Linked DNA regions of Homo sapiens. The protein of the gene in region 4 purifies or fractionates together with the protein of the main gene of each other region. This does not show direct contact. Each region holds a gene or a part of one and is shown on either strand. Other genes may lie near its edges. The genes, in order: NEDD1, TNKS2, RPUSD4 and ZNRD2.

What was found.
Region 1: the proteins of ZNRD2 (region 4) and NEDD1 purify together in Homo sapiens (co-immunoprecipitation; 3 studies listed by BioGRID and IntAct, with this or other methods). This does not show direct contact.
Region 2: the proteins of ZNRD2 (region 4) and TNKS2 purify together in Homo sapiens (co-immunoprecipitation; 3 studies listed by BioGRID and IntAct, with this or other methods). This does not show direct contact.
Region 3: the proteins of ZNRD2 (region 4) and RPUSD4 purify together in Homo sapiens (co-immunoprecipitation; 3 studies listed by BioGRID and IntAct, with this or other methods). This does not show direct contact.

The regions. Positions count from the first base shown.
Region 1 is NC_000012.12:96,903,350-96,910,256, reverse strand, and holds the start of NEDD1 (protein NEDD1), read right to left. Parts: upstream 3,001-6,907; 5' UTR 2,957-3,000; intron 2,792-2,956; exon of another isoform or gene 2,654-2,791; 5' UTR 2,646-2,653; coding exon of another isoform or gene 2,633-2,645; 5' UTR 2,401-2,632; intron 506-2,400; coding exon of another isoform or gene 498-505; coding exon 362-497; intron 1-361. UniProt on the Homo sapiens protein: Required for mitosis progression. Promotes the nucleation of microtubules from the spindle.
Region 2 is NC_000010.11:91,794,521-91,801,433, forward strand, and holds the start of TNKS2 (poly [ADP-ribose] polymerase tankyrase-2), read left to right. Parts: upstream 1-3,905; 5' UTR 3,906-4,170; coding exon 4,171-4,369; coding exon of another isoform or gene 4,370-4,432; intron 4,433-6,913. UniProt on the Homo sapiens protein: Poly-ADP-ribosyltransferase involved in various processes such as Wnt signaling pathway, telomere length and vesicle trafficking.
Region 3 is NC_000011.10:126,208,651-126,215,619, reverse strand, and holds the start of RPUSD4 (pseudouridylate synthase RPUSD4, mitochondrial), read left to right. Parts: upstream 1-3,969; 5' UTR 3,970-3,981; coding exon 3,982-4,170; intron 4,171-4,564; coding exon 4,565-4,730; intron 4,731-5,897; coding exon 5,898-6,099; exon of another isoform or gene 6,100-6,126; intron 6,127-6,969. UniProt on the Homo sapiens protein: Catalyzes uridine to pseudouridine isomerization (pseudouridylation) of different mitochondrial RNA substrates. Acts on position 1397 in 16S mitochondrial ribosomal RNA (16S mt-rRNA).
Region 4 is NC_000011.10:65,565,724-65,572,406, reverse strand, and holds ZNRD2 (protein ZNRD2), read right to left. Parts: upstream 1,931-6,683; 5' UTR 1,916-1,930; coding exon 1,897-1,915; exon of another isoform or gene 1,804-1,896; coding exon 1,652-1,803; intron 1,522-1,651; coding exon 1,437-1,521; intron 1,017-1,436; coding exon 673-1,016; 3' UTR 519-672; downstream 1-518. UniProt on the Homo sapiens protein: Might play a role in mitosis. Antigenic molecule. Could be a centromere-associated protein. May induce anti-centromere antibodies.

The DNA.
Region 1 (6,907 bases), on a different chromosome or scaffold from region 4:
TCATTCCAAAACCTTTTGGAATTATTTCCACAACTACCAACCTTATTCCATTTGGTTCAATAAGAAATTTTTGATAACTAATTCTATGGTGTAGACAGAATATACTTTTTTTAATAGCAGTGTTTTCAAATGAAGTGGGTTGTAACTAAATTTTTTTTAAATGAACGCAACAGATAAAATCAGAGTGCATTCATATGATATATTGTTTTGTAAATTACTATTTTACGTTATCTATCCTTGGTAGCAATGCAAAACACATTACTCAGTATGAGGCACATGCAAAAGTTTCATTGACAGTGGTTGTTTAACCTAATAAGCGGTTTGTGTGTGTGTGTGTGTGTTTTTTTTTTTTAAAGGATACTATTGCTGCTCCAACATATTGAGCTGATTCCATGTGGTGATGTGTGTGGGTTGAATTTATCCACCAATGTCATAGATGAAGCATCCCATATTTTAATATCATCTCCTGATGAAGCAAATCTGAGGTTTTCCTGCATGACTGCGCCTACAAATAGTTTAAAACAATGTATTTTAAAAACATTTAAGAATAGACATACTCAAAAAAAGGTCAAAATCTAATCTAAAACAAGTGGCTCTAACTCATTCATTTTTGTTCCAAACAGTGCAGTCACCAAAGCAGTTGAAGTGATTTTCCTAAAACATAAGCCAGGTCGCATTCTCTTAGCTGACCCTTCCAATGGCTCCTCACAGTAATGATAATGAAATCCAGCCTCCTTAGCCTGCCTTACATGTCCTGGCCCCCATGTAACTCTCCTCTTTCTTTTCACTGGCCTTCTCTCTGCCTCATGCAAAGGCAAAGTCATTCTCACCTCAGTGTCTTTTCATTTGCTGCTCCCTGTGCCTAAGATGTTCTCCCCAGATTCCCATGGTCATCTCCTTCTCATCATTCAGGTCTTAGCTCAAATGTTTCCTCCTATGAAAGGCCTTTCCTGACCACCCTGGCTAACGCAGTCCCTTCCTTACCTGGTAAGGGACTTAGCAGTTTACCCTATATCCCAATACCTGATTTCATTTTTTTCATAGCACTTCCTAATATCTGAATTTTTTTTTTTTTTTTTTGAGACGGAGTTTCACTCTTGTTGTCCAGGCTGGAGTGCAATGGTGTGATCTCGGCTCACCACAACCTCCGCCTTCCAGGTTCAAGTGATTCTCCTGCCTCAGCCTCCCGAGTAGCTGGGATTACCGGCATGCACCACCACACCCGGCTAATTTTGTATTTTTAGTAGAGACGGGGTTTCTCCATGTTGGTCAGGCTGGTCTCGAACTCCTGACCTCAGGTGATCTGCCCGCCTCAGCCTCCCAAAGTGTTGGGACCACAGGCGTGAGCCACCGTGCCCAGCCACTATCTGAAATTTTTATTTGTTCTTATAATGTCTGTCTCCCCACACCAGAGTCTTGAAACATTCCTGGCACACAGCAGTTTCACAACAAATAACTACTAATAAGTAACTTCCTAATTTTTAAAAAAAGTATGATAAACTAGCATTTCTGCAGGTCAGAATCCAGTCACACCAGTTTTTCCAAAACTCTAAAATTAGCAATATGGTCAAATGAGACGCCACTAAGTCCCTATACCAATACTTGGACTACGATGCCTTCAATCATTTATTCAGAGCATACAGCTGAAACACGTAATTCTAACAAGGTGATTTCACAAACCAAGGAAGTCTAGAAAACAGAAGGCAAAGAAGCTGCTCTAGACAGGCACTTTAAAGAGCAACAGGTAGTAATGAACGATAAGTGAGAAAAAAAGATGCTCAAAAGTACATGGGAGAAAAGGAAAGGGAGAGGGCACAGAATTATACCTCCCACACCTTCCTAGTATGGAAAGTGCAAGACTACTGCACAGCATTAGTGATGTCACAGGCAGGTCCCCGAGTCACCAATACAACAGCACACCTACGTCTAGTATAAGCCATTTCAGAGGACAAGTTAAAGACAGAATTATAGAAACGTTTCATTCTCGAGACAAAAAGTTAATGTAATTCACTCATGTGCTTCCTTATGCTCCATTCATCCGATACAGTGCTACTAAAAGCCATTAAAGTCACCTGCAGAGATGTAACACAATGTTTGGATTTGGAGCCTTAAACATGTGTAACACGTGCCCCCTTGGTTCCCAAGTCAAGGAACAACTAATGAATTGCTGGAAAAGCGAGCTCTAAGCCCTGTAAACCACAACTGCAAGCTGTGTCTAACTGCATCGTAACCAGGCCTGGTGAGCTGCGGGGTGTAGTGGGTAGATCACTGAGGCCTGGGCTCAGAAAAACTGGGTTCAAACGACCTGCTCCAACTTAGGAAACACAACTCGCCGGGTGATTTAATGTTTGTTTTCGGCTCTTAAAGCGGGGCGGGGAAGAGGACCATCTGCCCACCTACCTCGGTCTTCTAAGAACTGAGCATTAAGGGAGAGACTTTACATGAGTCCCTCAAAGACGGTCCCGTCGAAAGCTAGCAGTCAGGACACAAGGCGGTAACGTCGGCCTGGGTTTAGGGACAGCGGCTACAGGAACCAATTCAACTACACCACTCAGCTGAAATGAAAGTTCTCCAACTTTCAATCACCAAAAATACACTTTACTTGCAGGACAACAGCTCAAGTGAGGCTAACCTGTAAAATGCATCCAAGTACCTGCCAAAAGAAAAGTACTTGAGGTTGACAAAAAAGGAGACAGACTTGTGGAGACGAGGCAAACTTTTCGGAGGCAGCACACCCCACAAGGCTCCGGGAGGTGCGCGACCCCGGCCCGCGCCTCCCCGGACACTTCCCAGCCCAGCGCGCCGCCGCGCCCCCGCCCAGCAACCGCTCCGGGCGCGCAAAGCCCAAGGACCGCCGCCCCGCCCTCTGAGGGGGACGGAGCGGGTCTTAGGATCGGGAGGGTGCGCGGACGCGGCGGGCGGGGGCCCGCTGACCTCAGGGCCTCCGGAACCTCACCTCTCCGCAGCAACACAACAGGGGGCCGCGGCCGGCTCCGCGCTGGGCTTCCGGCTCCCGCCTGGACTGTTAAACTTCGGCGGCCGGAAGTCCCGCCCCGAGTGACGTCACGGGGCGAGGCGCTGCGTGCGGCTGTGGCTTCTGGCCGGACAGAAGTCGGGGTACAGAGGGTCTGGTCAGGGCGGCGCTGGGCAGCCGCGGGGGAAGTTATCCCAGTGTCAGGGCGGGAACTGCGGGCCGGGGCGGCCCTCTCCACGCCCCAGCGACGGAGCTCCGGCCACTGCCAACTGCTTGTCATTCACTTGCTGTTTACTGTGTGCCAGGCACTGTGCTAGACTCTTGAGTGTACAGTGATGGTTTAGCCTGGGGATACAGGGGTACAGTGAATTCTCGTGGTCCTTGGCCTTGTGGAGCTTACAATGCACTATAGGAAGCTGACGTTATTAGATGCTTAAATGGAAAGTGAAACTATGATAATGAAAGGTATAAGATGCACGAAGACCCATAATAAGGGAAACTATTGTGGATGTGGATTTAGGAAAGGATTCCTACATGCGATTTACAAGCCAGGAAACGCGCTCAGGCTGAGAAATAACCCAAAGAGTAGGCGTCTGCACTAACCTACTTCAAAACCCATGATCTTTCTTTCGCATCATGCTGCGAGGTCCGGAACATCAAACATCATCTGTTTGGGAATTCTTTTGAAGGGGATACTTCAAGGTGGAAAAGGAAGTTGCTGAGCCGAGTTTTCAAGTGCCCCTTCCAAAGGTCCTTTTATAGCTCTACTGACAATTTTTGCTAAGAATATTTATCATAAATATAGAGCATTTCTTCTGCAAAAAGTGTTATTCTTTCATCACAACTACATGGGGTGTGTTTCTGAACTAGGTACATCAGCCCCAGTTATCTGCATTCATATTGCAGATAATTGGAAAATTCTAATAAGTGCATTTTTTCAGAGCAGAAATTGAAATCGTAGCCAAGTTACTGAGGTTCATGGGGGAGTGGCAAAAGGAGAAAGATAGCAAGCAGCAACTACCTTAATTGTACAGTCTGCAGTTCTTGAGGCTATGAAATCCAATTTGGGCAGGGAGGAGGCCCAGAAAGTTGGGAACTAAGAAAGTACGGTAAGGGAGTGGGGGCAGGGAGAATGGGAGCAAATGGAGAAAAGAAAACTTCAAACAAAAAGGGCAATTAATTAAATCTCTGAAAATTGAAGCCAGCAGGAAAATTGAGACTAGACTATATGAAAATATATATAATAATACATGTAATATAATATATACATATTATATGATATAATACTAGTTATACATATAAAAATAGATATTTATTGAACACTTTACTAAGCACTGTATTTGTGTATATAGACGTAATGTGTATGTATGCAATATATATATAATTTCATCTTTCTAAAAACACATGAAGTATGTGCTATTATTTGTCCCCATTTTACATATGAGGAAATAGAGGTTAAGTAACTTGTCCAAGGTTACAAGTTTAATAAATGGTAGATTCAGAAGTTAAACCTGGGACCATGAGACTGCAAAGACTGTCCCAGACCTTTATGCTATACAGTCAAGAGCCATAACACAGCGTATAGGGCCAAATGGAAACCTCCATTCCTCTGTCCTCACTGATGCTGCGGCCTCATCAAATCTTACTGGCCCTGAAACAGTCCTGTCATTTTTGTCCGTGCCTCTGTGCCTATGTATACACTGTTTCCTCAGTTCTGTATAATAGTTTAACGAACAATAGATGCCAAATGTTAGAAGCCTTGCTAATATATGAATTATATAAACATATACAGATTTCCAAAAGTAGCCATCACAACAAAGAATATTTCTAGAGACAAAGAGAAATATTTCATAATGATAAAATGGTAAATAACCACAAGCCATTATCAATTTTAAGTGTATAGGTGAACGTAAGAGAATTTTGAAATATATGAAGAATAAGTATCAAAGCTAAAGGAGGAAAAAAGCATACCCATAGTCATTGTTGGAGACTGACAGAATTTTCTCAGTAATTCATAGAACATCCAGATAAGAAAAACAAATCAGAAAAGATGTGGAAGATCTGTACACTTATCAACTATTTTAACTGACATTTATAGAACACTATAGCCAACTACTGCAGGATAAACATTCTTTTCAAATACACATGAAAATGGAGCATATATTGGGCTATAAAACAAGTCAATTGATTTTTAACAGAATAAATCTTACAGACAATACTCTCTGATCACAACAGTATTAAATATAAATAAAAAACAATAACACATCTAGAAAAGCCCCAAACGTGAAATAAAACAACCTTACTTCTAATAACCCATAGGTGAAGGAAAAAATCAAATCACAAATATTAATAATAACAGAAAATATTTGAACCGAGTGATAAGTAAAATACAATAAAAATTCATGGAAACAGCTAAATCAGTGCTTATATTATGAAATCAGTGTTTATATTCTGAAAAAAAGAAAAGTCCAAAATCAATGATCTATGCTCTCTCTTAAGAAACTTAGAGAACAAATTAAACACAAAGATTACAGTACAGAACAATGAAATTGAACAAAGATGAACAATAGAGAAAAATCAATGAAACCAAAAGCTGATTTTTGAAATGATTAATAAAATTGAGAAATCTCTAGCTAGACTTACCAATAAGAAAGAGAAAACACAAATTACCAATATCAAGATTGAAAGAGAAGCCATCAATACAAATCCAAAGGATATTTACAAAAATAAGGGAATAGGATAAACAACTCCATGTCAATAAATTTGGTCACAACTAAAACAAATGAATACCTTGAAAGACAAGTATTAAAACTGACACAAGAAGCAATAGATAATATGATAGCCCTATATGTACCATAAAAATTGAATTCAAAATTAAGAAAGCCATCTCACAAAGGAACCCCAGGATCAGATGGCTTTACTGTTGAATTCTATCAAACACATGAAGAAATAATTCAACATTTTAGGAAAACAGAAAAGAAGAGAATATTTGCTAAACCCATTTTTTAGAGGCAGTATTACTCTGATACTAAACCAGAAAAAGACATTATAAGAAATATCCATAATTCATATCCCTTATGCATGGAGACAAAATTATATAGATACACATATATATGCAAAGTAAATCCAGTAATTTATAAAAAGGATTATAATCAAGTGAGATTTCTTCGAGAAATCCAAGATTGGTTTAACACTCAAAAATCAATTAACATAATTCACCATATTAACAAAATGAGGGAGAAAGCCCATATAATTATATCAATAGATGAAGCAAAAACATTTTTTTTAAATTTAATATCTATCCATGATTTAAAATGCTTGACAAACTGAAAAAAACAAAGGAAGGAAACATCCTCAACTGGTTCAAGGGCGTCTACAAAAAGCCTACAGACAGCACCTTAGTTAATGATGAAAGACTGAATGTCTTCTCCTAAGATTAACACAAGAACACCCAGTCTTACTAGTAGTCCTATTCAACATTCTTCTGGAGGCCCTAGGCAGTGCAATAAGACAAGAAGATGAAAAGAAAGAGAAGAGGAAATAGGAAGAGGAGAAAGGAGGAGAAGGGAGAGGAGAAGAAGAAAACAAGTATACAGAGTGGAAGGGAAGAAGTAAAACTCTTTATTGCAGACAGAATGATTGTGTACTGTAAAATCATAAGGAATCCAGAAAAAAACTCCTAGAGCTATGTGAATTCAGCAAGTCCTATGCAAGGTCAATATACAAAAATAGAATTCTATAAACTAGCAATAAACAATCAGAAAAGTAAAAATTACAATTTCATTTCTAACAACATCCAAAAGTATGACATATTTACACATAAATGTACTAAAATATGTTCAATAATTGTGCATTGAAAACTACAAAACATTACTGAGAGAAGTTAAAGACCTAAATAATGAAGAGCTGTATCATGTTCATGAGATAGAAGAC
Region 2 (6,913 bases), on a different chromosome or scaffold from region 4:
TCCCAGCACTTTGGGAGGCTGAGGTGGGCACAACACTTGAGGTCACGAGTTCAAGACCAGACTGGCCAACATGGTGAAACCCCATCTCTACTAAAAATACAAAAATTAGCCAGTCATGCTGGCAGGTGCCTGTAATCCCAGCTTCTCGGGAGGCTGAGACACGAGAATCGCTTGAACCCGGGAGGCAGAGGTTGCAGGGAGCCGGGATCGTGCCATTGCACTCCATCCTGGGCGACAGAGTGAGACTCTATCTCAAAAAAACAAAAAACAACAACAACAAAAAACCCAAATGGCAAATAGACATGTGAAAAGGTTCTTGACATCATTGATCATCAGAGAAATGTAAAAAACATTTTCTTTGCTCATCCAAAACTACAGTGAGATATCATCTCATCTCAGCTAAACTGGCTTTTATCCAAAAGACAGGCAATAACAAATGCCAACAAGGATATGGAGAAAAGGGAACCCTTGTACACTTTTAGTGGGAATGTAAATTAGTACAACCCCTATGAAGAACAGTTTGAAGGTTCCTCAAAGAACTAAAAATAGAGTTGTCATATGATCCAGCAATCCCACTGCTAGGTATATACCCTAATGAAAGCAAATCAGTATATTGAGGAGATATCTGCACTCCCATGCTTATTGCAGCACTGTCCACAATAGCCAAAATTTGGAAACAACCTAAGTGTACATCAGCAGATGAATGGATAAAGAAAACATGGTGCATATACACAATGGAGTACTATTCAGCCATAAAAATGTATGAGAGCTTATCATTTGCAATAACATAGATGGAAATGGAGATCATTATGTTAAGTGAAATAAACCAGGCAGAAAAAGACAAACTTTTCATATTCTCACTTATGTGGGAGCTAAAAATTAAAACAATTGAACACATGGAGATAGTAGAATGATGGTTACCAGAGGCTGAGAAGTGAAGTGGGTGGGGGATGTTTAATGGGTACAAAAAATAATTAGAAAGAATGAATAAAACCTATTATTTGATAACACAACACAGTGACTATAGTCAATAATAATCTAATTGTACATTTAAAAATAACTAAAATAGTATAATTGATTGTAATGCAAAAGATAAATGTTTGAAATGACTGATACCCCATTTACCCTGATATGATTATTAGGCATTGAGTGATAGTATCAAAATATCTCATATACCCAATAAATATATACACCTGTGATGTACCCAAAAAATTAAAAATTCAAACAATTTTAAAAATTAAAAATAGATATTTTGTTGCTAAAAAATGCTAACAGTCATCTGAACCTTCAGCAACTTGTCATCTTTTTGCAGTTGGAGGGTCTTGCCGCAATGATATCGAGGGCTGCTAACTGATAATGGTTGCTGAAGGTTGGGGTGGCTGTAGCAATTTCTTAAGAGAAGCTAAAATGAAATTTGCCACATCGATTGACTGTTCCTTTCACAAAAGATTTCTCTGTAGCATACAATGCTGTTTGATAGCATTTTACCCACAGAGCTTTCAAAATTAGAGTCTATTTGGGTGTTGAAACTTAATGGCAAAACAAACAAAAAAATAGAGCCTATCTCTCAAGCTCTGCTCCTGCTTTATCACCTATGTTTAAGTAACATTCTAAATTCTTTGTTGTCATTTCAAAAATTTTTACAGCATCTTCACCAGGAGTAGGTTCCATCTGAAAAAAATTTTTTTTTGCTCCATAAGAAGTAACTCCTCATCCATTCAAGCTGGTTTTTCTGTTTGTTTTCAGAGACAGGGTCTCTGTCACCCAAGCTGTAGAGGAGTGCAGTGACATGATCACAGCTCACCATAGCCTCAAATTCCTAGATCCCTCACATGTGCAGTTCACAATAGGGTTTGCGCTCCTGTGAAAATCTAATGCTGCTGCTGATCTGACAGGAGGTGGAGCTCAGGCGGTAATGCTCACTCCCCGCCCATCCCCACCCTGCCTCCATCCCCCGCCCTGCACCTTCTCTGCTCACCTCACGCTGTGCGTCCTTGTTCCTTACAGGCTAGGGACCAGTACCGGTCCAAGGGCCGGGGGTTGGGGACCCCTGTTCTAGTTAACTTGCTGCAGCTCCTACATCAGTATTTGCTGCTTCACCTTACACTTCTATATTATGAAGACAGCTTCTTTCCTTAAACTTCATGAACCAACCTCTGCTAGCTTTTAACTTGTCTTCTGCAACTTCCTCAGGTCTCTCAGCCTTCACAAAATTGAAGGCAGTTAGGGCTTTGCTCTGGATTCAGCTTTGGCTTAAGGAAATCTTGTGGCTGGTTTGACCTTCTATCCAGACCACTCAAACGTTCTTCGTATCAGCAGTAAGTCTGTTTCACTTTCTTATCATTCATGTGTTCACTGGAGTAGCACTTTTAATTTCCTTCAAAAACTTCTCATTTGCATTCACAACTTGGCTGTTTGGTGCAAGGGGGCCTATCTCAGCTTTCAACATGCCTTCTGCACTAAGATGAATCATTTCTAGCTTTTGATTTAAAGTGAGAGATACGCAACTTTTCCTTTCACTTGAACACCTAGAAAACCATTGCAGAGTTCTTAATTGGCCTAATTTCAATATTATTGTGTTTAAGGGAACAGATAGGCCCCAGGAGAGGGAGAGAGATGGCAGAGTAGCCTGTCAGTGGGGCAGTCAGAACATACACATTTATTGATTGATTGCTGTCTTCTATGGGTGTGGTTTGTGGTGCCTCAAAACAATTACAACAGTGATTTCAACTTATCACTGATCATAGATCACCATAGCAGATTTATGGGAAGAAAAATGATAAACGCAATCATATTGGTAGTGTTCTAGTCCTAGGTTCGTTCATGCATGTTCATGTTATTGATAAGCACCATAACTTCAATTTCATATGTATAAAAATGCTCAAAAAAGTGTACATCCTCTTTTAGCACTGTAGTGAGTCAACATTCCCCAACAAAAACTGGATTTCCTGAAAAACAGGTTAAGGTAGGAGGTTGGGGGGGGGATGCTTTTCAGAATGGCAAAGGTCAACATGTATCATCTTCTGTAAGTAAAATGTATGTATAGGCATACCTTTCTTTCAGTTTAAGACAAGGGGGTGTAGTGGGGAATTATCGTGTAAAACTACACCAGTATCTTAAGCATGAAAATCAATTATATGCTTTTCTTTTGTTTGTTGGTCAAAGAAAAAGATTATAACTCAGAAAACTTTCTTGGAGATGCGTATGCTCAGTGTATCCAAACTTTAGGCATGTCAGGTACAATATTGATTTACAAAAAGTTCCTCTAATCAATCCTGAGCTAATAACTTACTGTGGAAAGAGTAATTGATCAGAGCCATCCCTCCAATTGGAGTCAACTTCCATGACTGTTCGGATTTCCTTTATTTTGGGGGCAGTTCATCCAAACTTCTATTAAACGGCAACTAGTTCACTTTTGAGAAGTGGTTTACAAGAAACAACAACAACAACAACAAAGCAGTTGCGGAGGAAAGAAAAGAGACAAAGTAAAAAAAACGGAAAAGAAATCTCCCAGGAGAAAGGGATGTGGAAGCTGAAAACACGGACAATTTCCACAGTAAGACTTCCAAAAGAATGTGCAAGATCCGAGCAAAACTTTCAAGGGCTCTTTTTCAGTGTAATGGTAGTGAGAAAGTTCAGCCTGGAAAGCCCAGGGCTTAAAACAACAACAACAAAAAACACAATATGCAGGATCGTTCGGCTTCAGCAGAACCCACCGCAAAGATGGCGGTGGGACGAAGCCCCTTCTCCCGCCGCCGAAGCCTCTCGCCTCACATTTCCCACAAACCCTTCGCGCCGCCTCGCTAGCCGAAACCTGCCCAGCCGGTGCCCGGCCACTGCGCACGCGCGGGACGACGTCACGTGCGCTCCCGGGGCTGGACGGAGCTGGCAGGAGGGGCCTTGCCAGCTTCCGCCGCCGCGTCGTTTCAGGACCCGGACGGCGGATTCGCGCTGCCTCCGCCGCCGCGGGGCAGCCGGGGGGCAGGGAGCCCAGCGAGGGGCGCGCGTGGGCGCGGCCATGGGACTGCGCCGGATCCGGTGACAGCAGGGAGCCAAGCGGCCCGGGCCCTGAGCGCGTCTTCTCCGGGGGGCCTCGCCCTCCTGCTCGCGGGGCCGGGGCTCCTGCTCCGGTTGCTGGCGCTGTTGCTGGCTGTGGCGGCGGCCAGGATCATGTCGGGTCGCCGCTGCGCCGGCGGGGGAGCGGCCTGCGCGAGCGCCGCGGCCGAGGCCGTGGAGCCGGCCGCCCGAGAGCTGTTCGAGGCGTGCCGCAACGGGGACGTGGAACGAGTCAAGAGGCTGGTGACGCCTGAGAAGGTGAACAGCCGCGACACGGCGGGCAGGAAATCCACCCCGCTGCACTTCGCCGCAGGTAACCGGGGCCAGCGTCCCCTCGCCTCGCTCCAGACCCCACCTGCGCAGCCGGGGCCCACAGGTCTGAAACCAGTGCTCCTCCGCCTCCCGACCTTTCTCCAGGACTCTGGTCCTGGTGATCTCGCTCTCTTCCAGTGGGGACTAAGGAGATTAGGGGTAGGGTGAGCGTGCCACACTCGCTGGAAGTTTTTTGTTTTGTCTTGGTTTGGTTTTTTTGCCAGGTGTTGGGGGTGGTTTGGGGTTTTGGCTTTGTTTTGTTTTACAGTATCAACAATACCTGTACCAACTTCCGGTCTTGTTACCCTAGAAGGCCTCTACACACAAGAAAGAGTAGGGGACGTAGTTGATAGACCTTATGATTTAAAAGGTCAGTTACCTCCAAAATTTTTCGTTCTTGCAAGTTCCATTTGGGTTAAGGTCTTGAAGGACTTTGTAAAATACAAGGATGTAATTTAGGAGGAGTAGCTTAATAGGACGTTGACACATTAGCGTTAATTGGTTTATCAGAATAGCCAATCATTACCAAGTTTCTGGAGTGACTAGAACGGGAAATAGGCAAGTTTGGGAGAACTGAAACCTGACTTAGGCTGGGTGCGGGAAGCCTTAGACACACACACATACAAGTTGGGCGGAAAGTGGTAGTATAAGAGAAAAGATAGTGCAAGTACTTTAGCTTGAATCTAGAATTTAAGTTGGGACTAACCTTGCTTCATTCTGAAATTTAGATCGTTTGAATTACATTATTTTAATATTTATTAGGTTCACTTTATGATTTAAGCATATTAAATTTAGTCGAAAAATTTAAAAGAGCCATAGATGGGATATTCAGCTTATTCCCATAAAGCATGCATGCTGTTCACTTGTAGGAAAGATGATGACTGTTTCTAACTTCAGGTGAGTCATGCGTGATTGAAAATGGGAGTACCTCCTCTTACCTCTGACAATCCTGGTTTTTTGTTTTGTGTATTTCATGATTGTTTAAAACAATTTTTTGAAAAATCGGGGAATACCTTTTAAAGTACTCCTGTTCTTTTGGGGCTAGATTGATGAAGAGAAAAGGAGCAGTGAGAAATATTTCCTCTTTCACAGATATTACTTTTACACTTTCTACCAATTGGAGATTTGTTCGCTTTAACCTGTTCCAGATTTTAAATGTAAATACTACCAGGAGGTATGCTTTTTTGATCAATTGCACCTTTGTTGGATTTCCATTGGGGAGTCTTTTAAAAAGAAGAAAGTTTAGGGAACCTAGGTGGGAGAACTAGAAACGGTTTGTGGGCAATGGAAAGAGAAGGAAGAATACTTAAGTCAAACACACCTAGTTAGCCTTTTTGCCCGAAATTTCGGTGGTAAGTGCTGCCGTTCTTCAGCTAATTTAGGTTGTCCTGTTTGACCATGTAGTCAACATTTAAACAACTCATTTGGCAAACTGTCACGATCAACTGATACATAAGCCAAAGGGTAGGGTTACTTAGATTCTGTTCACTTGATCTGTGGGATAAAAATAACCAAGAAAGATCTTAGTTGCTACCTTTCAAGAATTTGGTGTATTAGTGAGTTCATATCTGAAAATAGTAATATTTAGAGGTGTAAGATTATGTTATTAGATCCTCAGTGACCTTGTTCCTTCTCTGCCTTCCCACCTTCAGTTCTGTCCCAACGTTTCAAAGCATATTTTTTACATAGGTTTCATTTTGTTCAAGTTTGGAAGACTTAATATTTTGGAAACCAACCCACCCCTCACAACTTACCCAAATTATCAGGTATAGGTTATCAGATTAAGAGTTAAAGGTATAAAAAGGGAGTAATAAAAATTATGAAGTGGGGGTTCTTCATTCAACCAGAGCTTTTGAAGTCCTGCACTTCAATCATATAAGAAACTTTTTTAAAAATTGGGTTTGTAAATTTAATCTGAATTTTAGGTTCATCAGAGAGAAGCTTTTTAAGTGCATCCAGCTACCTTTTCACTTAATATATGGAGAATATACTTTATAATCTGTTGTAGGTAGTGAGTTATCAGTCATGTTAATGTGCCTGCAAGCATACTGTTGGAAGTTCAACACAGGTGGTGGTATTATGTAACTGCCTGATCAAGCAGTTTCTTGTGTTTGTACTTCAGTCATAGAGTGAGCTATTGGAGGTGATGGGGGACATCATTATTTTAAAATTTTTTTAGCTGATTAAAGTTTGGAGATTTTACTGGGGGAGGCATGTTTTTGTCTTTTTGTTTTGATTCCCAAGTAATATTAGGACTGAGAGATTCGTGCAGACCACAGAAAATGAAAATTAGTTTAGAAAACATTTGCTTTAATTTCATCCCCAAAAGTTAGTTCAATTAAAAGAATAATCCGTTGCTAGCACCAAGAGAGTTAAATTCTGTTAATGAAGAAGATAGTCAACATAAACAGGAATTTTCCTTCTACTAGGTGTTTTTTTATTACTGAACTAGATTGCATACTTTTCTTCTAGATAAATATTATTTAAGAAGTAATTCCTTAGGAGAAAAATGACTCTGTAAATTGTTTCCTTTTCAGTCCGCCTG
Region 3 (6,969 bases), about 61 Mb from region 4:
GTTCACGCCACTCTCCTGCCTCAGCCTCCCGAGTAGCTGGGACTACAGGTGCCTGCCACCACGCCCAGCTAATTTTTGTATTTTTAGTAGAGACAGGGTTTCACCGTGTTAGCCAGGATGCTCTCCATCTCCTGATCTCGTGATCCGCCCACCTCGGCCTCCCAAAGTGCTAGGGTTACAGGCGTAAGCCACCGCGCCTGGCCAGAAATCTTAAAAGTATATTCCAACACCACTCAATGAAGTAACCTCCAAACATAAACATTAGCTCAGTGGCAAAAAGTTAAATTCTGGGGACAAGAGCAGAATCCAGTTTCTTAGTATCAATGCTAAATGTATTCAAGATAAATCTGAAATAAATCCCACTAATTCGGGCTGAAAGAGAAGTATTTCAGTATCAGTGGAAAATCTTCATAGACTAGAAACAGAGTTGCAAAAATCTTTCAAATGACAAAAAACTGAAGCCCAAATTATTTGTTCAAGTACGCAGCGGCTGAACTGGAACTAGTCCCACATCTCCTGGCTCCCAATGACTGTACTTTCCAGGGCACCTCCCAAGAGTTCCTGCTAATTGCCTCCTTTAATCTCTCTAAAACCATAAAACAATGTCCAAGTACTTCCTGCTCTTCAAGGAAATGGAATCGCTGGTTAATCTGCAACTAGCAAATCACAGTTTGAGGAGGCGTAACTTAACTTTATACCACTAATTAACCTTAAATTTGTGATAAACGCAAGTTCCTTTATTAGTTAGTCCTTGTTTGTTTATATTTGCGAAATACTAATGCAGCCTTTTTGTTCCTGAATAGACTAGGAAATATCTTTAAAAAGAAACTATCAAGTTCTTCTTTATATGGTTACTTTAGGGGCACATATTATGATATATCAAAATCAATGTAAATAAGTCATGTTTGAACAGAGCCGTAGTCTGCAAGAATGAAGAAATCACTAATAGAATTTCCTTCCTTGTTCTAAGAAAACATTTAGACAAGAGGAGTTCCCAACAAATGGACTGTGACATTGGCGCAGAAGTGGAAAAGTGAACTGCCTAAAAAAGGACCAGCTGAATGAGGAACAGGGAGGAGGCAATATAGAGGTAAAAAAAAAAAAACAAAAAAAAAACAAAAAAAAAAAACAGAAACAAAAGAGTTTTTTGCAGTGGCAGTATTGCAGCCAATGAGGTTTATCTGAGGGGTGATTATTGCTCTTTGAAAATTGGAAAAAAAAAAAAAAAAAAGACATGACATTTGCATAAATTCTTTTTTTTTTTTTTGAGATGGAGTCTTGCTGTGTTGCCCAGACTGGAGTGCAGTGATGCGATCTCGGCTCACTGCAAGCTCCGCCTCCCGGGTTCACGCCATTCTCCCGCCTCAGCCTCCCGAGTAGCTGGGATTACAGGCGCCTGCCACCGCGCCTGGCTAATTTTTTTTTTGTATTTTTAGTAGAGACGGGGGTTTCACCATGTTAGCCAGGATGGTCTCGATCTCCTGACCTCGTGATCTGCCCGCCTCAGCCTCCCAAAGTGCTGGGATTACAGGCGTGGGCCACCGCGCCCGGCCACATAAATTCTTTATACTGAGAACAACTCTACTTTAAATCACCAAGTGCCTAGACTCACCGGAGAAACATTAAGGATGTCATAACTTATGTACCCATACTGGCTAAAGCTGCACTGTCATACCAAACAAAAACTTTGAATTCTTTAAATTTCTCTACAAAGTTTCAACAAGACAAACCTAAAAGTTCCTTCTCCAGAAAAAAGGGACCAATATTTTTATTCTTAAGTCACTAAGTGTGTGCTTTGAGTTAACCTGAAACCCTAGAGCATAAGCTCTGTGTCACTAGCAATGACATTTGAGTTGGTTCTTCATTTTGTTTCCCGCCACAGAAGGCCAACTCTGCAAGAACAGGTGTAGTTTCTTGAATGCCATAAGGTTAGGGTAGAAACAGCCTCTCCCATCCCCGACACAAAACCATAAAAGTCCTGTACCCAAAACAAGTTTTTAATTAATGTAATGATATGAATTTAAGTCCCGATGTCAAAACTTCAGGGTCCTTGGAAAATTGAGCTTCAAGTATCTAAGTAATATGTGATGTTCAAGTGAAATTAGAACCTAGGTCTGGAGCATGGAAGGTAATAATTCTTTTAGGGTGGAATTTCTCAACTTTTATAGACCTCTGTCTTACTGGTAAATTTGCAGGGGGTGGGTGGGGAACAGGAGAAACAGATGTTTCCCAATCTCCCTTGGAAATCTTTGCATTTGTATCTGGATCTGCATTTACACCTGCCTTATAAGAGAAACGTACACAAGCCTTGCTTCTTTCCCACTTTACAAATACATCTTCCTCTACCTTCATTCTTCAGGCCAAACATTGACAGAAATAAGACAATTCAAAATGTTCAGACACACCTAGCATACATTTATGATGCACTTCAGCCATCTAACAGATATCGAGTTTACTATGTGCCAGGTGAGTGGATTAAAAAAAAAAATTCTTCCAGGGACTCACAGATCAACAGCAGCTGCCAAGAGTACGCCTTGACCTGCATAACTCAATTAATTCAAACTCAAAGGAGTTACAGTGTAGGGGGAAAAGACCAGACCTCATCACTGACCACCTAGATTGTAACTAGTTTTCCTACTATCAAACCCTTTCCTTCCCCACTATCAAACCCTTTCCTTCCCCATCTGTCCTGCATTCAACTGCCAGATTCATTTCCAGAATTCCACTTTCAAGGAGTCTCTCTGCCCTACTCGAAAAGCTTCAAAGACTCCTCACTACGTATCACCTCTAGTTCAAACTCTTCAACTTGAGTCTTCTATGAGTAGCTCCACCTGATCAACTTTGTTTCTTGTTGGTACGGCTCCCTTCTGCCAAACCCTTTAGGAGGTGTAGAACCCAAATCTAATTCAACTACCTATTCTCTAATAACTCCTCAGGCAGCCTTCATTCCAAGCAGTCTTAAAAAATTGTTCCTTCTATCGTCACAGATCCATTAGTTTTCAGGACATTCTTTCTGAACTCAGCATAAGCTTTCCTCTTAACAAATGGCAGGTATATCCCAAGTTATTTTTAACACTACCATCCCAAACAGATGTTTATCTTCCCAGCCACCCCTGAGTGAAATCAGAGGGAGTCGCCTGCAGTTCGGGCAAGGGAATCCCAACATCGCATCTCGTGAGAGGAGGTATGGTGTGGTTGCAAACTATGGAGAGGAAAAATAAAGGAAACAGGAAAAGTGAAGGTCTGTGCTCCGTTCTTTCAGCTTTTTCTTTAGGAGGAGTAGGGAAGGTAGGGAGGAGACCCCCAAGAAATGAATTCTTGAGGAAGGGCAGAAAAAACACTCACAGTGCTTCCTAAGTAGGAAATAGGTGCTGGGGGCCCTGGATAAGGGAAGGGGCCGTCATCCTTAGGAGAAGGGTACAGGTTACAACGCGAAACAAAGAGGCTGGGAGTTGGAAGATGAAGGGTGGAGAGACTACAGAGATCCGGGCATCCGATCAAGAGGGTCCCCGACGCGTCCCGCAGGGGACTGGCGGATCACCGGAGATTCAGTGGCTAAGAGGGACGGCGTCGGTGCCTAGGAGGGCTCTGGGGCGAGCGTTTATGGGACATCGCTCCTAAGGGGGCGCGGGGGCGGGGAGGAGTTTTTGAGTGGGATCGTGTACCAAAAGGAGAAACGTTTCTCAGACCAGTGCTCTTCTTGAACGGAAATCCCGGGGACGCAGAAAACGTTAAACCGTTGAGGCACCGGCATTTCCCAGCCCCAGCCCGGCTTCCCTACACACTCACCGAGTCTCCTCCAAACGCCACTGCTCCAGCTGCAGCTACCGGCCGGCGCAGCCGCACTGAGCGCGCACCGTCCCCACGTGACTCGCCCAGGCCCCACCCCGCACCACGTGACCTGCAGGGCCCACCCACTCCCGCCTCATTGTAGTCGCCCTTCTCCACGTGGTCTTGGCTCGCCCCGCCCTTCCTTGTAAGATGGCGGCGCCCAGGTGGAGCGCGTCGGGCCCCTGGATCCGGGGAAACGGCCAAGGTTGCGGGAGTCTCTTCACTCTCGTCTCAAAGCCATTTTGTGCCGCTGCCGCTGCCTCTACGGCCATAAATGCCCAGAGATTAGCGGAGAAGCTCCGAGCCCAGAAACGGGAACAAGACACAAAGAAGGAGCCGGTGAGTCCAAAGGGACCAGAACTCCCTAGAGGCAGTGCGCTCATTGGTTTCCCAGACGGGGAGTAGGTAGGAGGGTCCTCTGAGTGAAAGCGTGTGAGTCAATAGCCCGGACGCAAGGTGGGAGAATGGGGAGAAGGCGGAGGGGAGGGGTCAGTAAGGGTACGGTGTTTTCCCGTGAGCTGGATCTTTGGCTACTGTCAGGCTCAGTCCTAACCACTGCGTCGGTACGCAGGTTAGACAGATGGGTATCTCTGCTCTCAAATTAGTCGAAGGCGGCGCGGGTCTGATGCAAAGATAGTCATTCCCTACTCAGATTCTCACCCAGACCTTTATGGAAGGTCTTCTCCACGGCTTCCGCACCAGGCATTCCCCACGGCTCCTTCTTTCTCCCTAGGTGTCCACAAACGCTGTTCAGCGGAGAGTGCAAGAAATAGTGCGGTTCACACGGCAGCTGCAGCGAGTCCACCCCAACGTGCTTGCTAAGGCACTGACCCGAGGAATTCTCCACCAGGACAAGAACCTTGTGGTCATCAATAAGCCCTACGGTCTCCCTGTGCATGGTAAGGACCACGCGGGAAAGGTGGAGGAACCTGCAGCTGCTTTCTGCTACAACCGAGGAAAACTGAGACGTTACTTGTGGTGCACTCTAAAGCCTTGCATTCAAATTAATTAAACTTTTGTAAACTACCGTCCAATATAAGGAACCACCGAGAACACAGAAATAAATAAATAAGACAGTCCTCCCTTTCTAAACATCTGACAGTAAGCAATTCGTAGAATACGCTGTGTGCAGACTACAGGGATCGCTGTAGAGATATACAAAGGCTGTGTGGTTCTAGACTAAAGGTTATCTTCCATCAGAACTGGGAATGAGAAAATGATACATAAGAAAAAAGGGGGTGTGTGTGTGTGTGTGTGTGTGTGTGTGTATGTATGTTGGAGTATATGTAACATACAACCCCAGAGTGACTGGAATTTAGTGGACCTTCAAATGTCTTTCAACAGATGTTGCATGTAGTTGTCAGGGACAGCTGAAGTGAATCAGGAAAGATTGATTTAAAAAATGCATTTGTGAAAGAGGGAAAAGGCCCATTTTAGCTAGAAGAAGGTAATGCTTTTTGGGGAGATACGGAGATAGTTGTTCACAAAGACAAGGAATTAAATCACATCACCAAGTGTTTGTATAATTTTTTTCTCTCTTTATTTTCGCAACAGTTTTTTGCCTTTCCATTCCCCAATGAAGTTGTTTTCCAGATATTTACATTTTATAACGAGAAAGCAAAGTTGGAAAGAGAAGTAATGTGTCCAAGGTCAAAAAAATGGCTAGTAAGAAGAGTAGAGTAGAACCCCAGGAATGTCTAACCCCGAAGTCTATCCTCCTAATCACTCTTATTTAATGCTTCTCGAAGGCCTCATGGTTTTTCAAAGTATGTCTGAGAGGAAGCCACATGCTCTAGAATGGTGTTTCTCAAACTTTAATATGCTTCTGAATCACTTGGGCAGCTTGTAAAATGCAGATTCTGACTGAGTAGTCTAGGTTGAGAGCCTGAGATTCACTTCTAATAAGCTCCCTAGACATGCCATTGTTGCTAGTCTCTGGACCACACTTCAGTAGTAAGGCTCTAGAAAATATTGACAGTTTATCCATTAAGGGCTTTTCTCCCAAGGAGAGTTCTTTGGCGAGATCTTTTCCTGGCCGCTCAAACCTTTGGCTTTTTCCTTCTTAGGTGGCCCTGGGGTCCAGCTCTGCATCACTGATGTACTACCTATCCTGGCAAAGATGCTTCATGGCCACAAGGCAGAGCCCTTGCATCTGTGCCACCGGCTGGACAAGGAAACCACAGGTGTAATGGTGTTGGCTTGGGACAAGGACATGGCACATCAAGTCCAAGAGTTGTTTAGAACCCGTCAGGTGGTGAAGAAGTACTGGTATGAGGCCTGCTGATGGCAGTAGAGGTGGTATAAGTGGAGGCATTTCTTTCACCTATTTATTCATTAAAAACAGAAACTCCCATTAATAGAAGGCACTGCACTATGACCTGCGAGATTGTAAAAAATATGTGAAACAGCTTTGGTGCTTAGAATATTAAGTCTGATAGAACAGTGGTTCTTAATTCTGGTATACATCAAAATTATCAAAAATTAATTATACAAGCATGGGGTGGACATGGTGGCTCACGCCTGTAATCACAGCACTTTGAGAGGCAGAGGTGGGAGGATCACTTTAGGCCAAGAGTCGGAGAACAGCCTGGGCAACATAGTGACACCTTTTCTCTATAAAAAGTAAGAAGTTAGTCCGGTATAGTGGCACATACCTGTAGTCCCAGCTACTTGGGAGGCCAGGGTGGGAGGATCACTTGAGCCCAGGAGTTTGAGGTTACAGTGAGCTATGATCACACCACTGCACTCCAGCCTGGGTGACAGAGTGAGATCCTGTCTCTAAAGAAAAAAAAATTAATTAATTATACAAGTAATATATGATTTTATTCCCATGCTAAAAATAGTCAAACAACAAAGATCATGTGAAAAACTCCTGGAGAATCCACCCATTCTGCCATTCTAGTGTTTTCTCTTGAGGTAACAACCCATGTAATCAGTTTGGTTTTTTTTCCTCTGGTTCTTACTCAACGCATTTACATATATGTCTAGTGTATACAGTATACGCGTGTGCGGCGTACGCAGTATACGCGTGTCCGGCATACGCAGAATATGCGTGTCTGGTGTACGCAGTATATGCGTGTCTGGTGTATGCAGTATATGCATGTGTACATATGTATGTACACATATATATCTATATAT
Region 4 (6,683 bases):
GGAGATGGAAAAATGCGGCGGAGGGGGGAAAAGGCTGAAGGGGGCAGGCGTGGTTTCTTCACGGTTCTTTTTGCTACCCCGTCTCCCCGCCGCGCCCCGCCCCGCCCCCACACCCAAGGAAAATGATCTAACAGTGGAGTCAGGAGACTGGCAAGTCCACACTTGGTGCCTAACGTGCCACCTGACGCTGGGGTCACCACAAACTCCTGTCGGTGTCTGAGTACCTGGGGTGGGCATGAGATGGGATAGGCTGATAGGGTCAGGATGCTCAGGGGAAGGAGGGGAATCTATCAAGGGGATCGGAACACAAAACCTCACTTCCAGGTGGGGAATGGACACCAGATGGCGGAAGAGGCTGCAGAGGTGCTGCCAGAGACAAGGCTAGGGTCCACCCCTCTGGCTGCTACCTTTGAAAAGGCTATGGCTTCTTCCTTAGAAAAGGGGCATCACATAGTCCTCTACCTACTCCCTCATCCTGACTGGGGAAACTGAGAAGAAACAAGCTCAACTCATCTCAGGGCGTCAAGGAGAGCAGAGTGGAGAGGTGAAGAGGCCAAAAGCTGGAAAAAGGTGAGTGGAGCTGGGGCTGGCATGCACACTTGGAACCAGGAAAAAAACAAACCACACAGAGGAACAGCTGTTTTTCTAGAGGGTTTTTCTCAGGGGCTTCTCTTAGTGCTGTAGCTGCTGCAGGCTGCGCAGGGCCTCCGCACATGCGCGGATAAGGCCACACAGCTGGATGCTAGTCTCCAGGGAGGTGCTAGAGCCCAGTTCAGCAGAGGCCCAGGTCAGCTTCTGCAAGAGGGCTGTCTGTGTGCAGGCCATGACATCTGTATTTGGAGGCACAGCAGGAGCAGGTGGCCCCTGGGCTGCCTTGAGTCCTGCTGCAGCTCCCTCACAGTGCTCCGGACGAGGTACTGGGGGCTGGGGCGCAGGTCGAGAGCCCAGGGGGAGCTCTGAGGCTGAGGCCAGCTGGTGCTCCCGAGCTTGGGAGAGGGCAGCCTGGGCATTCAGAGCTAAAAAGAGGAGAAAGTGGGTGGAATGGTCAGGATGCCTGGCCCACCTCAGCCCTGAGCCATCTCCTTTTCTGCTCTGCTCTTTCTGTGCTTGAGGTGTTTTCCCTGTCCCTCTATAAGGCAACTCATCCACTTTCTACTTTGTATCACATTTATGCCCTAGCTTCAATTCTCCATCAGTACTGGGCCTGGTTGAGCTCAGACTCTCGCGCAGTGGCTGGCACACAGGAGGTGCTTGGTGCTCTTATTGAGTTAAGGGTCCTCTTTAGAGCCTAAAGGAGAAATAATTTTACTTCTACCCCACCCAGAGACTCCACTGTCACCTCTCAGCCCTACTGTTCTCGGGCCTCTATCACCACTTAACCACGCTTCCCCCCTAAGCATATCCGGCCCCTCTCCCGGATTATTTTTTACTCTTACCGGGATTATCTTTATCCACGTCTGAGTCGAGTTCCTGACAAGCCACGCAGTAGATTTTCCGCTGTTTGTCTTGGAGGAGGATCGTCTACGGACCAAAAAGCACACGGGGCCGGAATGAGACGCCGGCAATGGGGTCCAGAGGGGAGGGCCGGGGAAGGGCTGAGTGGCCTGGCCCGCGGACCCATCCCCGGTCACTCGCCCGAGTCTCGCCTCACCCCGCAGTCCGCACACGTCTCGCCCAGCATGCGGTAACCGCGCAGCAGATAGTCGCCCATGAGCCGGGAGATGCGATCTTGCCGCTCCCGTCGCGCCTGCAGCACCTTCGTCTCCGCCTCAGTCGGGGGCTCCCAGGAGAAGTCGTCGACTTCTGGGGAAGAGAGGCATAGGGACTGGGGGTCTTGCCGGAGTGGGCTGCCTCCCGTACCTCACAGCCACAAACCCCTGCCGCCCAGGTCCTCACCAGCTCCGTTCAGGGCCATGTTGCCGTTGTCACCGCCGGGCTCACAGGAAGTGACGTCAAAGCGGAGCGCCCTCCGCTGCGGCTCCGCCCGTTCCATAGCTGCCGCGGATCAGGGCGGACGTGACGCCTTAGCGTGGTCCTCAGACCTCGCTGTGCCCGGGGTGGGGCGTGTCGGCTGCTACCGAGAACCTGCTCGGGGGACGCGTCCGTCAACCGGAATCCAGGGGACAGAAGCTTCCGACGCGCGAGGCCTCGGGAGGAGCGTCTCCTTGGTAACTCTCCTCCGGTCGCAAGACCTGGAAGTGGCCTCAGGGGGTCGCCCTTCCTGTCCGTCGTGGATGAAGGGGACCACTTGGCTTCAGAAATCCCCGCTGGCCTCCGCCTCCCCTGGGGTTTCCCTTTCGGCGCAGGCGGGGCAGCGGCGTCATCACAACCATCGCCACCCCAGTAATCACAGCGAGCGGCCCTTTGCGCACGCGTGGAGCCTTCTCAGGCCTCAGTACTTCTCACTTCGCCCGGCAAGGCTGGCCAGGAGGGGTGCATTCTCCCTTTCCGCGTATTTCAAGACCACTCCCCTTCTGCATGCTCGGTGTCCCAGTCTGTCTCCTCGCTGCCTCCCGAGGCCTGGAACTGAAGCAAAGTTCGCCCCGAAGCCGACCGTTCTTTGAAGTTGAAATCCTCAAAAAGCCTGCAGACTGAATAGCGCTGTACTGGGCACGCGCATTGCGCTTCCAGCCGCCCTTGGGTGCTGCGTGCTGGGCCGGGTCGGGTTGGGGCCTTCCTACATACTCTTGCGACCATTAGGCTCTTCTTGGGTGAGTTGCAAGTTAAAATTACCAGGGCTCTCTGAACATGGACCTTGGTGCTTTTTTTCTCTCTCCCTCTTCCGTGTTCTTTTTCAAACGCATCTTCTCCCTTATTAGATTCAGAGAAGCCAGACAGGGCAGGCAGGGGTCCTCAGATGTGCAGTCTGCAGGGCCTGAGGTTGTACACCAGGGCAGTGGAAAAGCAGCTAGGACTTGGACTTTCACAGTTACATCGACATTCTCCTCTTCCGGATGGCACATGCCCCCTCAATCTGACCTGAAGTCCCTTCCTCCTGGCCCCCTCTTCCTTCCACGTAGAACCCCTGGAACTGTCATTCTTGCTGCCTCCTGCTTACGTGGAGAGCCCTGTGTCCCTTTCACATCTCCATCTACCAGTCAGGCTCTTGGGCAGCAGCGTACCTGACTTAGGGCCTGTACCACAAGTCGTTTCTATCAGGCTGAATAGAGCCACCGTTTTTTGTGTGTTTGTTTGGTTTGGTTTGTATTTTTTGTAGAGATGGGGTTTCGTCATGTTGCCCAGGCTGGTCTCCAACTCCTGGACTCAAGTGATCCTCACACCTCAGCCTCCCAAAGTGCTGGGATTACAGCGAAGAGCCACAGCACCTAGCCTGAGGCTGACTAGAGGAACTGTCTCTGAACCATCTCTTGGACTCCAGCCTGTATGCACAGACCCCCAGGTTATTACCGTCTCCAGCTCCCAGCCCTACCCTGAATTCCTCAGTGCGCCGACTATGTCACCATCATGGCCAATATCCACTCAACTGTCTATTCTGCCTCGCACCTACAAAGAGCCTTACATGAGTCCTCTCACTTAATCTCTCCAATTTACTCCTCATGACAACCTTACATATCCCCACATAAGCAGGAAACTGAATAATTATTTTAAAATACAGTGTCGTTCTTGTACTAAAAACCATCTGGCTGCCCGATACTGTGGCTCACGCCTGTAACCCCAGCACATTGGGAGGCCGAGGCGGGCAGATGTCTTGAGATCAGGAGTTCAAGACCAGCCTGGCCAACATAGTGAAACCCCTTCTCTACTAAAAATACAAAAATTAGCCAGGTGTGGTGGCGGGCGCCCGTAATCCCAGCTACTCGGGAGGCTGAACCAGGAGAATTGCTTGAACCGGGAGGCAGAAGTTGCAGTGAGCCGAGATCACACCACTGCACTCCAGCCTGGGCAACAGAGTGAGACTCTATCTAAAAAAAAAAAAAGCCATTTGGCATCTCCCATCACACTTAGACAAAAATCCAAAGTCCTTGTTATGGTCTCCAAGGTCCTATAAATCTGGTCCTTGACCCCCCAAATCCAGACAACACATAGAGAGATGCACACACATCTCCCATCCTTCCTGCATCCCTCTTCTCCCACTGCTCAAGAGGACTCTTGTCCCTTTTCTCCTCTCAGGGCCTCTCACCATCTTAAGTTCCACTGTAGGGTGGACAAGACGCAGAACTGGAATGAGGCAGGCCTGGGTTTGATCCTGGATCTATTTACTGTATCACCTGGAGTAGTTTACTTCATCGCTGTGGACTTCAATTTCTCATCTGTAAAACAGGGCCAGTAGACCAGGTGCTGTGGCTCACACCTATAATCTCAGCACTCTGGGAGGACATGCAGGAGGATTGCTTGAGACCAGCCTGGACAGCATAGTAAGAACCCATCTCTAAGAAATATATGTATTTTTTAAATTAGCTGGTGCAGTAGCATGCACTTGTAGTCCCAGCTACTCAGGAGGCTGAGTGGGAGGATTGCTCCCAGCCCAGGAGATCCAGGCTGCAGTGGGCCATGATCAGGCTTCTGCATTGCAACCTGGGTGACAGAGCGAGACCCTGACTCAAAATAAAAATGGGGCCACTTATGCCTATTTGTTGCTTGTTTGTTTTTTGAGATGGAGTCTCTGTCACCCAACCTGGAGTGAAGTGGCGCAATTCTCGGCTCACTGCCACCTCCACCTTCCAGGTTCAAGCAATTCTTGTGCCTCACCCACTGGAGTGGGATTACAGGCATGCGCCACCACAGCTGGCTAATTTTTTTTTTTTTTTTGAGACGGCATCTTGCTCTGTTGCCCAGGCTGGAGTGCAATGGTGCGATCTCGGCTCACTGCAAGCTCTGCCTCCTGGATTCACGCCATTCTCCTGCCTCAGCCTCCCAAGTAGCTGGGACTACAGGCACCTGCCACCACGCCCGATTAATTTTTTTTGCATTTTTAGTAGAGACAGGATTTCACTGTGTTAGCCACGATGGTCTCGATCTCCTGACCTCGTGATCTGCCCGTCTCGGCCTCCCAAAGTGCTGGGATTATAGGCATGAGCCACCGCGCCCAGCCAATTTTTTAAATTTTTATTTCTAGTAGAGACGGTGTTTCACCATGTTGGCCAGACTAGTCTCAAGCTCCCGACTTCAGGTGATCTGCCCACCTCAGCCTCCCAAAGTGGTAGGATTACAGGCCTGAGCCACCGCGCCAGCTTCAAAGATGTTTATCTAGGGAACAGCTATGGAAGATGGAGATAGTGTCTCCCTCCAGAGCAAAGGACAGCCATGCTTACTGGCTTTGAGTTTCCTAAGCTTAGGGTCCTCTCCCACAATGTAATTCGCTCTGTGTGCCCACACTTGCCTGAGCCCATCAGCATCACCCCCATGGGACTTAGGGTCAAAAGGAACTAACGGAAATATGCTGGTGCTCATGCTGTTTGCTGCACAGCGATCAAGTCCTTTGTCTCTGACCCAGGACTCTCCTGTATTCTGCCAGCATTCTTGAACCTGACGGGCTACCTTGGTAGCTTGCAAGTGGGTAAGATCTCAGATGCTTCACAGTCCTTGACATAGAAGGTGCTCACAGGTGTTGGTGGTAAAACCTATTCGCAGCAGTCACAGTGGACAGGCCAGTGTCTGTGGAGCAATGGGCTTGGGCTCTTTCACACCCTTCCCTTGCCGACAATATATCACACCTTCAGCCAGGCATGGTGGCTCACAACTTTAATCCCAGCACTTTGGGAGGTCAAGACTGGCAGATCACTTGAGGTCAGGAGTTCGAGACCAGCCTGGCCAACATAGTGAAACCCCATCTCTACTAAAAATACAAAAACTAGCTGGGCATGGTGGTGCGAGCCTGTAGTTCCAGCTACTCATGAGGCTGAGACGGGAATTGCTTGAACTGGGAGGCGGAGGTTGCAGTGAGTGGAGATCCTGCCACTGCACTCCAGCCTGGGCAACAGAGCATGGAGTCAGGGAAGAGAAAGGAGGGAAAGGAGGAGGGGGAGGGGGAGGGAAGGGAATCACAGTTTCATGTGAGCCAGTCCAAATTGGTCCCTCCTTGTGGCACTGATGACATGGCTGTAGTTAGGCTCTTTTCTGGGTGATAGAGCACCCCACAGCAGCTCAGTCATGCACAGCTCAATTACAGCTCCCCCTGGGCTGGCTGATTTGGTGGGGATGGTTCACATGGCAACAAGTGGCCTATGCCATGTTGCCTGGCCTCTGAAAAACGTAACTTATCATTTGTATTTTCACACAGGCACTGAAAAGGGGTCAGCTATTCTTTTTTTTTTTTTTTTTTTTTTGGTTTTCACTGCAATGTGAATCACCTTGACATTTCTGTGAAACAGGAAGTGGCTGGATGATACAACAATAAAAATAATCACACTCAACTTGGTGTGTGTGTTTTCTTTGGGCCAGGCACTGTGTTAAGAGCTCTTTATGAAGTATTTCGCTTATTCCTTAGGACAACACTGGCAGCTAGGTCTTATCATCATTCCCAATTTGCAAATGAGGAGGCTGAGGCCTGGAGTAGTGAGAGATGTATCCACAGTCACCCAGTTGGGAGTGGCAGGGCTGGGGCTCCCGGCTGGCAGCCAGTGTACCTCTTGAGCCTGAGCTCTTACCAGTAGATTTCTCCCGTGCTCAAAAGGCGGGGAAGAGTGGCAGGGCAGAAGGGCCCCCTGATTTATCAAGCGTGA